Linked DNA regions of Homo sapiens: region 1 is linked to region 2. The links come from fine-mapping of genetic effects on gene expression. A gene starts in region 2. The other region holds a variant in brackets. All regions are shown on one strand. Distances are between the middles of the regions. Region 1 overlaps TMEM63B (transmembrane protein 63B). Region 2 holds the start of TMEM63B (transmembrane protein 63B).

Region 1 (8,322 bases), 22 kb after region 2:
CCATCTCAGAATATTTGAAACAAACAAACAAACAAAAAAATGAACTATTCCTTCACTCAGCAAGCATTCTTCAAGCCTTGCCTGGTACCAGGTACTAGTGAGTCAGTGCCAGTTTCTCTCTGGTCAGTCTTAAGTCAAGGTAAGGATGAATCTGGGGTCAGGGTTAGGAGGTCAGTCTTGGGTCTGGGCAACAGGTCTGGGGTCAGTCTTTGGCCAGGGTGGGCTTAAGGGTCAGTCTTTGGCCAGGGTTACAGGTCAGTCTCACCCTGGTCAGGGGTCAGGATCAATCTCTTGTCTGTCTTGGGCCAAAGTTAGAGATCATTTTGTAGACTGGGTTATGGGTTGGTTGAGGTCAGTCTGTGGTCAAGGCTAAGTGTTGGGCTGTGACCAGGTCTTCTGGGAACAGGGTTAAGGAATTATATAGCCTATGACTAGATGCAATTTTTTTCAACCTAAAGGTCACAGCCCTGGACAGGAATCAGACCATAGCCCTGGCTTCCCTACCTGCATGCAGTATGTCCCTACACATCCTGGTTTGTTAGCCCAGCCTGCAGTCACACAGTGCTCAGGCCTTCTGCTCCCACTTCCCCACTCAGATAAGCATGAGGAGGAACTCCAAAGCTTTATTCTTGGGGAACTCTCAGTTTTGTAGACTAAGAAAAAGGCAGCTTGAATTGGAGATGTGGGTTTTTTTGTCTTTTTTTTTGAGATGGAGTCTCGCTCTGTCGCCCAGTCTGGAGTGCAGTGGCGCGATCTTGGCTCACTGCAACCTCCACCTCCCGGGTTCGAGCAATTCTTCTGCCTCAGCCTCCTGAGTAGCTGGGACTACAGGCACGTGCCACCATGCCCAGCTAATTTTTGTATTTTTAGTAGAGACAGGGTTTCACCATGTTGGCCAGGCTGGTTTCGAACTCCTGACCTCAGGTGATCCTCCCGCTTCGGCCCCCCAAAGTGCTGGGATTACAGATGTGAGCCACCACGTCCAGCCAGAGATGTGTTTCTTGAAGGTGATGGGGTCATGGATGAAAGTCAGGGGCAGGTGGGTGGGGTCCCTGCACAAGATGATACATGAACTGTGTTTCAGGGAAGCCTACCCCAACTGCACAGTTCTCGAAGCCCGCCCGTGTTACAACGTGGCTCGCCTAATGTTCCTCGATGCAGAGAGGTAAGGGACTGGGGGCAGAGGAGGGTGACACCAAGGGCCCCCTGCCATTGTGGAGGACATCTTGGCTACCACACAGGCTCCCCTTCTAGATTTTTTCCTAGGGCATTTGATTTTAATTCAACTCGTTGGTGTGCCTGTTAATTCAGCTCTGGAAAGAGCAAGGCCTGGAGGTTAGAGTTTGTTGTGAGGGGAAGGGGGGCCCATGGTCCCCACTGCATCTGAGGACATGCCCTTCTTTGGCTACAGTATGAGAAATTTAGGTCAGCCTGCAGGAAGAACTTCTGGCCCTCTAGGGATGGGTGGGGAGACCTTGGGATGTGGCCACATCTGAAACATGTATCCTAAACAAGAACAAGACAGCTCCTGTCCTTGGGGAGTGAGCTAGATGACCCCCAAGCTGAGCCAGCCCCAGCCCCAGATGTAGGTGACCAGGCATCTGGGTCCCACAGGAAGAAGGCCGAGCGGGGAAAGCTGTACTTCACAAACCTCCAGAGCAAGGAGAACGTGCCTACCATGATCAACCCCAAGCCCTGTGGCCACCTCTGCTGCTGTGTGGTGCGAGGCTGTGAGCAGGTATGACGCGGGCTGGCTGTTGAGTCGGGAGAAGTTGGACAGGTCCTGGGCAGGCAAGGCTGGGGCCCTGCCCTCAGTGAGTCCCCACCTGTCCCTGGAATCCTTGAAGCCTCAGTTCCCACTGTTGGGTTTGTCTAATGTCCCTACAGTGACCAGGTTTTCAAACCTCAAATTAGAAAATGTCAGCCAAAAGGACAATGTTGTGCTGTACCCACTGACTCTGGGGACTTGAGCAAGTTGCTTACTGCTCAGTGCCTCAGTTTCCTCATGGGGTTAACGTACCCACCTTATGAGAGTGTTGTGAGGGTAAAGTGAGTAATACATATAAAGAAGCTTAGAGGTGCTGGGTGCGGTGGCATATGCCTGTAATCCCAGCACTTTGTGAGGCTGAAGCAGGTGGATCACTTGAGCCAGGAGTTTGAGACCAGCCTGGGAAACATGGCAAAACCTGATCTCTACAAAAAATACAAAAATTAGCCAGGCATGGTACTGCACACATGTATTCCCAGCCACTTGGGAGGCTGAGGTGGGAGGGTCACTTTAGCCTGGGAGCTTGAGGCTCCAGTGAGCTGAGATTCCACCACTACACTCCAGCCTGGGCATCAGAGCGAGACGCTGTTTCCAAAAAAAAAAAAATGCTTAGAGGAGCAGTGCCTGGCTTGTAGGAAGCCCCAAGTCAGCGTGGGCTGGATGCTGCAGGCCCCAGCCTGGCTTTCCAACTAGAGGCCCTGTCCCTAACCCTCCCACAAAGGTGGAGGCCATTGAGTACTACACAAAGCTGGAGCAGAAGCTGAAGGAAGACTACAAGCGGGAGAAGGAGAAGGTGAATGAGAAGCCTCTTGGCATGGCCTTTGTCACCTTCCACAATGAGACTATCACCGCCATGTGAGTCCCCAACTCGGCCCTCGGCCCTGAGCAGCCCTCCAGGGCTCCCTGACCCCTGTGCTCATGGCCTTCTGCCAGCAGTGTGGCCTCCAGGTGGGCCTGTGGTAACCAGTGCCCATCTTTCTAGCATCCTGAAGGACTTCAACGTGTGTAAATGCCAGGGCTGCACCTGCCGTGGGGAGCCACGCCCCTCATCCTGCAGCGAGTCCCTGCACATCTCCAACTGGACCGTGTCCTATGCCCCTGACCCTCAGAACATCTACTGGTGAGCAAACAGGTGTCAGGGCAGGCTTTCCAGGGCCTGGGATGGGCTCAGTAGGTAGGCGGAGGAGAGGGAGTGTCTTGGTGTCACTGGGGGCCAATCCTGCCCTTGGTTCCTGGACTGACCGGTTCCCCACCTTGCCAGGGAGCACCTCTCCATCCGAGGCTTCATCTGGTGGCTGCGCTGCCTGGTCATCAATGTCGTCCTCTTCATCCTCCTCTTCTTCCTCACCACTCCAGCCATCATCATCACCACCATGGACAAGTTCAACGTCACCAAGCCTGTGGAGTACCTCAACGTGAGGCCTCATGCCCCTGTCACTTTCCACGCTGGGTCACAACACACAGATACCAGGCCCTGATCCCTCTTCCACTTGCCCAGCCCAGCCCGTTCTGCTTGTTCCAACCCCGTGCCACCAACCAGCTCCCAAAAACCCCTGTGTGCACTTCCCTTGGGCTCCCTGCCACCTTCCCCCTGAGAGAGGCCACCCTCAGGTGTGCAACACCTGGAGAAACACCCAGGGAAGAGAGAGAGCCTGCATTTAGTCCTGATCTCAGAGAAGTCCCCTTCCCTCACCCCTCAGTCTAACTGAAAAAATGGAAAGGTTCAACTAGATCAGTGGCTTTGGACTTGGATTCTGATCTCTTTATCGGTGTGAAACCCAGTGTGGAAAAGCAGGGCTGCTCCGATGACAGTAGGGTGGCATGCATGTCTGCCTGGCCTCCCCTCACCTCTCCTCCCACGCATAGAGCATACCTCTTTAGAACCTCAGAGTTTGAAGAAGGACAGTTTGCAAATCACTTGGAGTGATAATACCATAATAGATAAGACCCAGACTGCATGGATTCAAATCCCTACCTCATGGCTTGCTAGCTAGGGAAGCTATTGAATCTTTTTTTTGCCTCAGTTTACTCATCTGTCAAATGGGGTAACAGCATTATTGTGAGGATTAAGACATGGCAAGTACATCAGCACTGCTTAGAACATAGTAGATGTTCAGCAAATGCTGACTATCAGTATTATCCACCCTGGGGTTATACATATGGCCCTGGCCCCCACCCTCACCCCAGCCCTCCGGATGTTCTGGGCTTCCAACATGGGAGCCCTGAGAGTTGTGAGGCCAAGGGCCCAGCTGGGGAGGAGGCACATAAGCAAAGCCACCTGGGCCCCCTAGACTGCCCTGCCTGACGCCCCCCTGTGCCCTGCTGCAGAACCCCATCAT[C/T]ACCCAGTTCTTCCCCACCCTGCTGCTGTGGTGCTTCTCGGCCCTCCTTCCCACCATCGTCTACTACTCAGCCTTCTTTGAAGCCCACTGGACACGGTAAGGTGCCTCCACTCACACCACACCTCGCTGTGGCCTGCCCTCAATGACCCATCCTCTCTGGGCAGCACTTTGCCCTTCAGGCTCCTGGCCCTGGGCAGTCCCACAGCTGGTAGGGAAGGGGTAGTGCCCAGCACCCTCACCTTGGGAGGCCCACCCTTCCCAGGGGACACTCCTTGGACATTGTCCTTGTTGGGGGAGCAAGTCTGGGGCCTGGGCTCACTTGACCTGTACCGTTCCCTGCTCCCCTCCCTCCAGCTCTGGGGAGAACAGGACAACCATGCACAAGTGCTACACTTTCCTCATCTTCATGGTGCTGCTCCTACCCTCGCTGGGACTGAGCAGGTGAGTTGAGAAGGATGGGGCAGGAGCCAGGGTAGGGGGACAGCAGGATAGGGAGAGGAGAGCAGTTCAGCCTCCCTACCTCCCCTACAAAGCAAGGGGCCCAAGATGGGAAGCCTGGCCACCCCCAGGCCTCCTGAGCTACCCACCCCATGTCTGGGAGTCTCCCCAGTGGCTCACAGAGGAGGGACTTCCCCTCCCCTGGTGTTCTGTACCACTCCAGCTCCCACCCCATCTCTCCTCTGCTTCCCTCCAGCCTGGACCTCTTCTTCCGCTGGCTCTTTGATAAGAAATTCTTGGCTGAGGCAGCTATTCGGTTTGAGTGAGTGACTGGGGCCCCTAGGGAAAGAGACCAGACAGCAGGGGTGGGTATGCTTGAGAGACATTGCCAGCCCCATGGGAGGGTGCAACAAAGCTTCCAACTCCTGGAGGGGGCAGAAGAGAGAGGATCTGGCGGGGTTACCCCAAAGGCACCCACAAGGTGTCTTGGGTGTGTATACATGGTAGAAGTCCCTGGGGTCTGTGTTGGTGTTCACTCTCTGGTAACCTGTTTGGATGCTAAGATCATCCTCAAGGTATATTTGGGGCTTGGGGCTCCACATTCTGGTAGTTTCTATGGGGGTGTCTTGTGCCCATATTCTGGGACTAACTGTGGGCGTCTCTGGAGTTCCACTTGGGAGGTTTGGGGAACCATCTCTAGGGAGGTCTTGGTGATACTTAGGGAGTGTCTTGGAGGCTACTAGGGGTATCCCTGAAGGTCTCTAGAGCCCATATTTTTGGGTATGTGTAGGAGGCTCTTGACCTTATAACTCTGGGGGTGTCTGTGGGCGGGGAGGCTAAAGGACTCACACTTTGGGATGTTTAGCAGTACAAGTTCTGGGAACATCTCTAAAATTTCAGGCTTTTATTCAGAGATGTAACTGTGGAGTTCTGTATGGGCATCTTCTCTGGGAATCATGTGAGGATATATTGAAGGTCATGCACCATGGCTGTGGGCACAAACTCTAGGGGTTTTGCTGTAGGCCATCTGTGGTGATCTTTGAGTCACACTTGGGGCATCTCAGGCACTGATAAAGGTTCCTGGGCTCCCCCAGAGATGTTGCGGGAAGGGTCTCAAAGCTTGTTTGTGGAGGTATCTGAGGCTCATGTCACACTCTGGGGGTAACTCGAGTTATGGTCTAAGTGGGGGAATCTTCTGGGTGTTCCTGGGGCTGTCAGCCTTTGGGTTCTTTGAGGGTCTCATTGGGTTGTCTTTGGGGGTCCTGGACAGTTCTCCCCTGAACATTCTAGCAGCCTTAGGTGGTCTTGAGCACTCTCTCCATGGGTCTTTATGGGGCACAAGTTCTTGGAGCTGTCTGTTGCCACTCTGTATGTCTCTGGGGGGAACAGGGCACAGGTGCTTGGGGCGCTAAGCTGGGGGTGTCCACATGGAAGAAGCATGTTGGTGGTGGAGGTGTTGGGTGCTGTAGTTCTGGCAGTGGGCGGGCGGCCACCGGGTCACCCCAAGGGTGCAGTGCTGGAGCACCTGGTGCCCGCAGGTGTGTGTTCCTGCCCGACAACGGCGCCTTCTTCGTGAACTACGTCATTGCCTCAGCCTTTATCGGCAACGCCATGGACCTGCTGCGCATCCCAGGCCTGCTCATGTACATGATCCGGCTCTGCCTGGCGCGCTCGGCCGCCGAGAGGCGCAACGTGAAGCGGGTACGGCCGCCTGGGGCAGCAGCGGCCCGCACAGCGCCCCCTGGTGGCCCAACAAGAAACAGCAGCCATCGCGCTAGGGTTGAGGGGCACAGGAGGGCTGAGACTTGGGGAGTACAGTTGACTCACGGTGGATCCGGGCCATCCCCTTCCCATATCTGGGGCCTTCGTATTCTGCCATGGGTGGACATAGGTAACCCTGAAGGCCCCTGCCAGTTCTGACAGTAGCATTCTATGATGGGAGTTGGGGAGATCTGGGTCCCTAGCGCTAGGGTCCCTCTGTCTTAATAAGAGGGCTCTGGGCATCCCACTCTCAAGTCCACCCAACTCTTGCCCCCTACCTGCCAGGCCCCGACCCTTGAAGGCCCCTCTCCGTGCCCCATCACTGCAACCGCCCTGACCCTCCTCTCGGCCATAGCCCCTCTCTCCATCTGCTCTGCCCTACCCTACCCTAGACATTAGGTCCTGTTCCCCATGGCTTCTTTTCCGGCCCCAGAGGTCCTGGCTCCCTTCCCCCTCCCTCCTTCCCTGCCCCTCTGGTCAGTCCCTGCCTCCCTGAGCCATCCTCCTGCCCGTCTCCCCCCCAGCATCAGGCCTACGAGTTCCAGTTTGGCGCAGCCTACGCCTGGATGATGTGCGTCTTCACGGTGGTCATGACCTACAGTATCACCTGCCCCATCATCGTGCCCTTCGGTAGGCACCGCCGCGCCGGGACCTGGGCCCTGCTCGGGGGGACCCAGGACTTCACCCTCTCCACTCTAGGAATGCAGGCCACCCCGAGTGGACAGGGCCCGGCTGGGAGACCGGCCCCTCGGGGCTCCCGCCCGGTCCCTGGCTCAGTCTGGGGCCTGGCCTGTGGGGAGGAGGGGGAGAGCCATCAGCTCAGGCCAGACCCAGCTGGCATGTGGGCCCCAGGGCAAAGTCACACCAACATGGCCATACTTACCCACACCTGTGCCTTCCCTCAGCGGGATGTGCTTGGACACAGATCACATACGTGCTGACATGTTCACACACACACTCCCACACAGGCATCCATGTGCACACTTTTACACCACCCTGTAAACTCAGGAAAGACTTGGATTCCAGGGTGGGATGGGTCCTTGCCACTCATGGAGATAGTCTGCTGTATCTGAGCTATGTGACTTGGCCAGGTCTCTCTTCCTTTTTGAAGTTTAGCAAAGTTTCTCTTTAACCATCACCCCCACTGGTAGCCTCTACTTTCCTCCCTAATAACATCCTAACTCCTTAACCAACCCTCCCTGGTTATTGAAGGCTCCAAGTTCCCAAACTAACTTCCTTGTCCTCATTAGAAACTCCCTATCCCTCAGCCTCTGGGGAAATAGAACTTGTCCCTTAATTTATACGTATCTGTTTAGGGACAGGGTTAGAGAAAAATGATACGGGTTTTAAGAAGATGCTTGTTGATTCAAATGACTAGATTTCCAATAGTAGAATTCCTGATGAGGAGAGTAGAATGAGGGGTTGTAGCGGAGGAAGCTGAAGTTCTGTGATCACGCTGGGGCACGGGGCACTATCCCGTCCTGGGGCCCGGGCAGGAGGAGGGGGCCAACCCTTCAGCACTCTCAGGACCAGAACAACCTGTGACAGACACACAAAAGGTTCGGCAGCACTGGTTCCGAGGTCAGGGCCCATGTGGCTTCCCTTAGGGCTCATGTACATGCTGCTGAAGCACCTGGTAGACAGGTACAATCTCTACTACGCCTACCTGCCGGCCAAGCTGGACAAGAAGATCCACTCGGGGGCTGTGAACCAGGTGGTGGCCGCGCCCATCCTCTGCCTCTTCTGGCTGCTCTTCTTTTCCACCATGCGCACGGGTGAGGGATCCCTACCCAGGGAACGGGGGGTGGCGAGCAGAGTGGATTCCAGCCAGAGCAGGCCACAGGAGAAGCCGCATGGCTGGGGGTGGCAGGCAAGGGGCCTGGGAGAGGCTGGGGCCAGTCTGTAGCACCTGGGAGAGTGAGGACTGCATTCAGAGGGTATCAGAAGCTGGGGTGGGGAGGCCCACAGGAGATAGCAACCCCATTCTTTGCCCCCCAACACCAGGGTTCCTAGCTC
Region 2 (8,322 bases):
AAGAATGGGGGTGGGAGGGTGCTGCTGATGGAAAGCATATATCTCTTTCACTCCATCCTCCCCTTCTCTCACACCAAGTCTGTGGCCCTGGAATCACCTGTCTGGGTCTCAACGACTCTCTGTCAAGCAGAGATCATATTGGGAAAAGCAAAGAGGTCTGGAAATGGAAGTGCTTTAGCTTCACTCATGTAAGGGATCATTTTAATGTGGACAATCCTTCTCTGAATTATCCAGTACAGACTAGATCTGCAGGATAGTTTGTTTACCAGATCCTGGCCAGGAAGAGCAAGCTCGTTCCCTGATTCTCAGGGCAGCACCATAGGTGCCTCTTTAAGATCATAGCCCTGAAAGTGTTTTCAGTTTAGAGTGGACATGGTAAATTACTTCCTCTCTTTTCTAAGACATAAAAGATTTTTTGAGTTTTTAACAGAGGGCTCTCCTACTCTGAGTGGTTTCACTGGTGAATGGTAAGCTACTTTACTATGACCTTTTTAAATATTCAGCATATTACCTGACCCAGAACAACATTTCTGAGATCTGAACTGCAGTCTTCTCTTGCATACTAGTTGTCACTGTAAATACACATGTAAAATCACACCAGGGTAAGCTACAACCCAGACAAACCATGAGCCTATAAAATAGAAGGCTAAACCATAACCTGCTTTTCGAGACCCCCCCTACAGCCCTAAGAACTATCCAAGTAACCTGACAGTAGGAAAATCCACCTTAGGTGTGCCCAGGCATGATAATCCCAAAGACATAAATGGAGCAAAATAGGTTTTAAAGAATTCTTGCAACACTGAAGACTAGGAGCTAAGAAGAGTCTAAATAACCATGCTCAGTGCCCAACCACCTGAAAAGTGGACTCCAGGGAAATTTTGTTGTTGTTATCCACCCCGCCCCAAGGGAAACATTTTATCTTTAATATTCAGGAGCAATAATAAAATATTTTGGCCACTGTTCTTCAAGGATTCCACAAGGCACTTAATTCTCATGTCAGGCTTTCTGAAATGCTTGCCCTGGAAAGTGTCACTTGATGGCTCACACACTCCTTGAGGATTAGGTGCTGACCCTAATTAGGCACAGGCAGAAATAGTTCAGGAATCCACATGCTCAGATTCATAACTATACTTTTTGTAAAAAATAAAAACATATAAAAAATGCCTTCTGGCTGGACAAGGTGGCTCACGCCTGTAATCCCAGCACTTTGAGAGGCTGAGTTGCGTAGATCGATTGAGGTCAGGGGCTGGAGACCAGCCTGGGCAACATGGTGAAACCCTATCTCTACTAAAAATACAAAAATTAGCCAGGAGTGGTGGCTCGCGCCTGCAGTCCCAGCTACTCGGGAGGCTGAGGCATAAGAATTGCTAGATCCCAGGAGAAGCTGCAGTGAGCTGAGATCGCACTGCTGCACCCAGATCTCCCCAGCCTGGGCAAGAGAGACTGTCTCAAAAAAAAAAAAAAAAAAAAAAAAAAAGGCCTTCTAGTGATCCTCAGAAATCCAAAAACCAGACAACTATGGCTTCCACTTCCATTTTTCAGATATCCATTATAATACTATTTGACCTCAAAGTGAATTTTATTGTTCCACACAAGCAACAGATTACACCAATTTCACAACTCCCAGAATCCAAACCTACAAAGACCCTTCCCACCAAGCACTTTACCAAAAACGGGCTTCATCTCCATCTTCCTTTCTTTCACAGTTGAAAAACTGCCCTTCCTAATTAAGCCAACCAACTTCTTACCTCAATAAAATCCTTGTTTTTCAGTAGCACGTACAGTATTTCCAGTGATGAACAGTGAACTGTCTTTCGTCTCACACAGTAACCTCCGTGAAGAAGATCCACCTTGTTCTTTACTGTATATTCCTGGCATGCTAACTGCATCCTCAGACAATTTTAAGTGACTGAAAACTCAGGCAAAGAAAGGCAAGAGGGCAAATAGAAGGGCACAGGAGACAACGCTTTTCAAATTTTTCTCACTGCGACCTACAGAAACACACTGTAGAACACCTCCTAGTACACTCACACGTGTGTGTACACCTGAAGTGTCAAGAAACAATACCCTAAGTGCAACACCCTCTGATATTTTCTATTTCAAGTGGCCGTGATCTACTAAACTGATTTCCAACTCACCAATAGGATTCAGTTTGAAAAACACTGCAATAAATCAAACCTTACAGTTGCATTCCACAAGCTACTAATGAACTCTTGAAAATCCAGCATACAGCAGAGACGCTGACCAACTACAAGATCCAAACCCCCCAGGTGGGCAGTGTCCTTCTGTTCAGCAGTGGCAGTTCCCCACCACCACCAGCCCTGAGAGTTAATTATCTCCCAAACTCCCAGAGTTTCCCAAGTAGCCTGAGGTGTCTGTCATATGCCCTTTTAACCTCTTTATAAATTCAGTCCCGTCCGTCTCTTACGGTGGCAAAGTTCATTTATCGTCGGCTGTGGAAAGCAATACTTCCTTTTTGTCCCCTCCAGGAACCAGAAATTAAATGACCAGGTTGGTGCCCGTTGTGCCTTTATGATCTATTTGTGTGGGTGATATATAGAAAGAGTCTCAGTCTCTCCCTTCATCTTTCCAGTCTTAATCACTGGTAGATGCAGTCTCTGGTGAAATAAGAAACCAGGGAACCCCCTGGCCTGGGGGAGGGCGCACTCATCAGCGTTGACAGAGTGAAAGCAAAAACTCAATCCTCACACCACAGAGGCGTCTGGCTAACTCATCTCCAGACCTAAGTTGGGAAAGGGGAGGGGAGCGCGGAAAGCGGAGAAGCCGGAGGAGACGCTCCGGAGTGACCAGCGACGGCTGAACGCAGCCCGCCCTCCCCAAGTCGACGCCGCAACCCGGGGAAAGCAGGTGAGCGCCGGCCACGGACTTGGGGGTCGCAGAAGCAGCCCACGGAGAGCGGAAGGGAGGAGGATCCGGGTAAGGGGCCTCCCCTCCCCGTCGGGACCCCCCTCCCCGTCGGGACCCCCCCCTCCCCGTCGGGACCCCTCCCACTGACGCTCTGCCTCCCACTCTGGCCTCTCCTCACTCACCCCGGGGAGTGGGCCTCCCCTACTGCAGAGAAAGGAAGAGGAGAAGGAGGGAATGAGGACTTAACGCCCACCCCTGCCCCCCACCATACCGCTCTCGCCGCCCGGGAAAATCCCGCCGCGGGCCCCACCAGCCAAGCGCCGCCTTCGCCCCACGCGGCCTCTTCCTAGCGCCTGCGCGCCAGGCCCAGCCCGGCGGACGCGATCTGAGAGTGCGCGCGCACCTTGCGTGCGCCGGCGTGCGGGGCGGGACCTGCGGGGCTCCGCCCCCTCCCCCTCCCTCCCCCCGCTCCCCCTCCCCCATACACTGCCGCGGCCGCCGCAGGAGCCCGGAGCTCGAGCCGCCCAGCGACTCCCCCTCCCCCTCCCCCAGCCCCGCCCCGCCCCAACCCGGGGCTCCGAGCCGGAGCCGAGTCTGCGCCTGGGGGTGAGTACGCGACCCCTACCCAGCCCTCGCTCTTTTCTTCGAAGATCCCACCACCACCCAAAGAAAAAACCTGGACTCAGCTGCGCGTCCCCTCCCTTCAACCTCCTGCGGGACCCAGAGGTGCCCGGGCCCGCGGGACCCAGGGGTGGCGCGCGCTGCCCCCAACCCCGCACCATCCCGAGCCAAATGTGAGTCCTCCAACCCCTGCCGGAGGTCCAGATACGCGCCGCCGGCTCTCCCCAGCCCCGGGGAGATCCCAAAGGGTGGGACCCCCGCCCCCGGCCCCCGAGTGCCACTCTTCTCCCACCTGCCCGGTGCAGGTGCGCGTCCCCTGCGCGACCCTCGGGGGTGCCAGCTGCGCCCCGCCTGTCCGCCGCCGTTTGGGGAACTAGCCGCCCCCGCCCCCGAGTTTTGGACCCCGGGGTCGCCAAGTCCGATGCCTTCTGTGCCTTTTATTTTTTCTGCTGCTCCCGGGGGCGAGTACACCCGAAGCCGGTCCGGGGTAAGGGCTCGGGCTCGGGCAAGGGCAGGGTTCGCAGGTGCTGGCACGAGGCCGGCCGCTGCCCCCGGCTCTGGGGACTGACTGGTCGGCGGGCTGGAGAGGCGGCCGGCCCCGGGAGCGTGTCCTCTCCTTGCGCCCCACACAGTGCAGTTCATTCATGAGCCGCCCGGGCCTGCGTTGGAGGGTGCGGTGGGGAAAAGATTCAGACGCGAAACCGAGAGTGGGGCAAAGGCCCTGTTGTGGGGAGGGGGCGCCGCTTTGTCCCTCCTGGCTGTCTTGACCGCCTAAGGCGGACAGTCCCAAAGCTTGGCACCTTGTTCCCCAGAAAAGGAAAGGACGCTTGGGAAGTGGGGAGGAGAGGTCAGAGGGGCTGGCTGCCCTTGGGGCGCTGTGCTGCCCCCTGCCTGGGTCCCCTGGGCAGAGGTCTGGCCGCTCGGGGCAAGCCTGAGCACTCCACCGCCCTGGGGGGCTGGGGCTTGCCTACCCATTACCAGTCTGCAGCAGCCGGGGAGCAATGAGGCTGTGCCCAACACCTGCTGAAGAGGGGCCCATCCTGCCTCCCAGGCCAGGGTGAGGTGGGGAGTGGGAGTGTCAGCCAGGCTTCAAGTGGGGGTGTGCTGGCAGCGTGATTGTCCTCCAGGGCACCAGAGGGTCCAGGCCTTGGCATGCCCCAGGTGGCACATGCTGGGGCCTGCTGTTGGCTCACTCAGTGCAGTCTTGGCCTGTGGGTGGATGGGGACATGGCAAGGCAGAAGGCAGGCAGTGGGTAACTAAGAACCCCCTTGGACATCATTCAAGTTCTCTCCAAGTATAGCAGAGTCTTAGAGACCTGCGTTCAAATTCTAGCTCTACTATTCTTCAGCTGTGTGACCTTGACAAGTTACTTAACCTGTCTGAACCTCAGTTTTCATTAAAAAGTGTTTATGCCTATAATTCCAGCACTTTGGGAGACTGAGGCGGACAGATCACTTGAGGTCAGGAGTTCGAGACCAGCCTGGCCAACATGGTGAAACCCCATCGCTACTAAAAATACAAAAATTAGCCGGGCATGGTGGCACACACCTGTAATCCCAGCTACTCAGGAGGCTGAGGCAGGAGAATGGCTTAAACCTGGGAGGCGGAGGTTGCAGTGAGCCGAGATTGTGGCACTTCACTCCAGCCTGGGTGACAGAGCAAGACTGTCTCAAAAAAAAAAAAAAAAAGAAAGAAAAGAAAAAGAAAAAAAGTGTGGTTACTACCACCTCCTTACAAGTTTTATCATGGGAATCAAACAAGGTAACAGAAGTAAAGAGCTTGGCATCCTTCCTGGTAATTGATCAATAATGGGTTATCATCTCTGAACTTCTGACCCATAACTCTCCCATGCCTCCACCTCCCAGGCTACCACAGATGGATGGGGTATGTTCAAAGAGTGAGAATATTCCCTGTCACTCAGTGGCAGAGTCCCTAACACAGTGTAAACCCTTAGGTCTAAATAAGAAGCCCAACCTGACTGAGGGGCTCTGTTATATTTCTATCATGTTACATTCTGTGTTTTTATCTTATTTTTGTTTTTACCAATTTTCTTTCTCTAAACCAACCCCTTTTATTCCATACCTTATTAATAACAATAACTAATTCCTAGAGCCCATTATATGCCTTGAACTATATTAAGAGCTTTACATAAGTCATCTTGTTTAATCCCCAGAACAACAACACAACTGGATTATTGTCCCATTTTACAAATGAAGAAACTGAGGCCCAGGGTGACTAAGTAATTTTCCCAGGTTAGAAGCCTGGTCTGTCACATCCTAGAGTCTGTGCTTTTAACCACCAGACTATGGTGCCTGTCCCCTATGCCTGCCTCAGAACCTGAAATCACAAACCCAAGGCCTGAGTGGAGGGAAGCTACAAGCAAGAGGAAAGGCAAGCAGGTAGAAATAGGGTATGGCATTTCTCCAGTGTGGTAACTGACTGCCTCCGGCTCCCTGGTGGAAGTGGCTCTTGTTTGCAGATAACTCTGCAAAGTGCAGTGGTTAAGAGCATACACTCGAGCCAGGCAGCCTGGGTCCTTATCTGGGTCTACCACAGACTGGCTGTGTGACCTTGAGCAGCTCATATACTCTCTCTGTATCTCAGTGTCCTCCTGGGGTTGTGATGGGGAGCAAATGAGTTACATTTGTAAAGTGCTTAGAACAGTGCTTGGCACAAAAGAAGAGTTAAATAAACATTTAATACTATTATTTTACTACTTTTTTTTCTTTTTCTGTTTTTCTTTTTTCTTTCCTTTTTTTTTTTAGACACGGTCTCTGTCTGTCGCCCAGGATGGAGTGCAGTGGCATGATCTTGGTTCACTGCAGCCTGGAACTCCCTGGGCTCAGGTGATCTTCGCACCTCAGCTTCCGGAGTAGCTGGGACTACAGACATGCACCAGCATGCCCAGCTAAATTTTGGTGGTGGGGGGTATCTTTTGTAGAGACGGGGTTTTGCTATGTTGCCCAAGCTGGTCTCGAACTCCTGGGCTGACGTGATTCTCCCACCACAGCCTCCCAAAGTGCTGGGATTACAGGTGTGAGCCACCATGCCTGGCTTTTTTTTTTTTTTCCCCTCGAGACAAGGTTTTGCTCTCTTGCCCAGGCTGGAGTGCAGTGGCATGATCATGGCTGACTGCAGCCTCCAACTCCTAGGCTCAAGGTATCTTCCCCACTTGGCCTTCAAAAGTGCTGAGATTACAGGGGTGAGCCACCCCACCCTGCCTACTACTACTTTTTTTTTTGAGATGGAGTCTCACTCTGTCGCCCAGGCTGGAGTGCAGTGGCATGATCTAAGGTCACTGCAACCTCTGCCTCCTGGGTTCAAGTGATTCTCCTGCCTCAGCCTCCCGAGTAGCTGGGACTACAGACGCATGCCACCACACCCAGCTAATTTTTGTATTTTTTTAGTAGAGACGGGGTTTCACTGTGTTGGCCAGGCTGGTCTCGAACTCCTGACCCTGTGATCTGCCCAGCTCGGCCTCCCAAAATGCTGGGATTACAGGTGTGAGCCACCGTGCCTGGCACCTACTACTACTTTTATGCTCACTTGTGGATATATTCTTGCCTTTCTCTCTGAAGTGGGTAGGGGTAGAGTAAGGATATTTGTATCTCTTTGTTACAGATTGGAAGACTGAGACTCAGGTTTCGTAGTAACAGAGCTCGCTTCCATCTTCCCCTCCTCCCCTCAGACCACATGGCCTTGCTTTGATCCAAAGCCCTAACTTAAATCTTGCCCAGTAACTCCACTGAAAAAGCTTATATCACTCCTGTAATCCCAGCACTTTGGGAGGCCGAGGTGGGCAGATCATGAGGTCAAGAGATCGAGACCATCCTGGCCAACATGGTGAAACCCTGTCTCTACTGAAAATACAAAAATTAGCTGGGCGTGGTGGCATGTGTCTGTAGTCCCAGCTACTCAGGAGGCTGAGGCAGGAGAATCCCTTGAACCCAGGAGGCAGAGGTTGCAGTGAGCCAAGATCGCGCCACTGCACTCCACTCTGGTGACAGAGCGAGACTCCGTCTCAAAAAAATACACAACAACCCCCCCAAAAAAAAGCTTATAAGTTATAGCTCTCCAACCCCCACCATGCACACACTCCTTAATGGTAAAATTAAAAAGTTAGCTAGAAGTAAAATGCTCCATCACTCTCTGGACACACCTCAACCAAAACCTCAATATCAGACTAGAGAAACTGGGATATAGCTGGTGCAGGCACCTCGTGGAGTGGAAGAACTGCCACCTCCCATCCCCAAGGTATTCTGCCTCAATGTCTTCCCTCTTCTCAGTTGCTCAGCCCAGTGCTGGCTTTGAGAGCAGCTGCCCTTGATGAAACTCAACCCAGCAACCCCACCCCCACAATTAAAAGCTTGGAGCAGCCCTGTCAACTGGCAGAGCTGCCAGCCCAGGCTCCACCCCTTACCTGTCCTGTCACTGTGCAAGTTGCTTCCCCTACTGGGTTCCTGCTTCCTCCCTGTAAAATGGGGATAGTGATCTGAGTGTGCCCTGCCTTCCTCCCATGCAGGTGGGAAGATTAATGCTGTTGTGGAGGGGAGAGTACTTTGTGACCCCAAGGAGGCGGACAGCAGAGGAGCATGGTGATTTCAGTTACTAACCATCTAGCTAGATCCTGTCCACCCTGCTGGGGCCACTTCATGTAGAAGCTTCCAAAATGCTCTACCTTTCTTTGGTGTGGAGAAGACAGGAGTTGATAGGAATGGTACTCTGGGGCTTGTTCTCATTTCATTCTGATCTGATGGAGCCTTGGAATTCAGAGAGAGAAACAGGCAAGGGGTGGGAATAGAGTGTTGAGATTGCTGGAGTACATTGGAGTT

Evidence for each region.
Region 1: its variant is fine-mapped to the expression of TMEM63B in whole blood (INTERVAL, PIP above 0.99). The same link has a PIP of 0.9 or more in cerebellar hemisphere, cerebellum and monocytes.

Annotation. Positions count from the first base shown.
Region 1 is chr6:44,145,763-44,154,084 of GRCh38, forward strand. TMEM63B (transmembrane protein 63B) reads left to right here. Exons shown (of 24, transcript NM_018426.3): 11 at 1,085-1,165; 12 at 1,615-1,738; 13 at 2,490-2,623; 14 at 2,751-2,888; 15 at 3,030-3,183; 16 at 4,097-4,203; 17 at 4,462-4,548; 18 at 4,802-4,867; 19 at 6,084-6,246; 20 at 6,831-6,936; 21 at 7,914-8,081; 22 at 8,311-8,322. It overlaps LOC107986599 (a long non-coding RNA gene), which reads right to left. Exons shown (of 3, transcript XR_002956350.2): 3 at 8,076-8,215. Among named protein-coding and RNA genes, the nearest start is that of CAPN11, 8.9 kb to the right of the region's middle. RefSeq lists enhancers at 3,408-3,577, 6,092-6,261. The variant C/T (reference allele first, on the strand shown) is at 4,108.
Region 2 is chr6:44,124,205-44,132,526 of GRCh38, forward strand. It overlaps TMEM63B (transmembrane protein 63B), which reads left to right and starts at 3,350. Exons shown (of 24, transcript NM_018426.3): 1 at 3,350-3,474. MRPL14 (mitochondrial ribosomal protein L14) reads right to left here and starts at 3,248. Exons shown (of 3, transcript NM_032111.4): 1 at 3,140-3,248. RefSeq lists silencers at 2,981-3,040, 3,071-3,120, 3,141-3,540, 3,581-3,690, 3,871-4,030 and 1 more.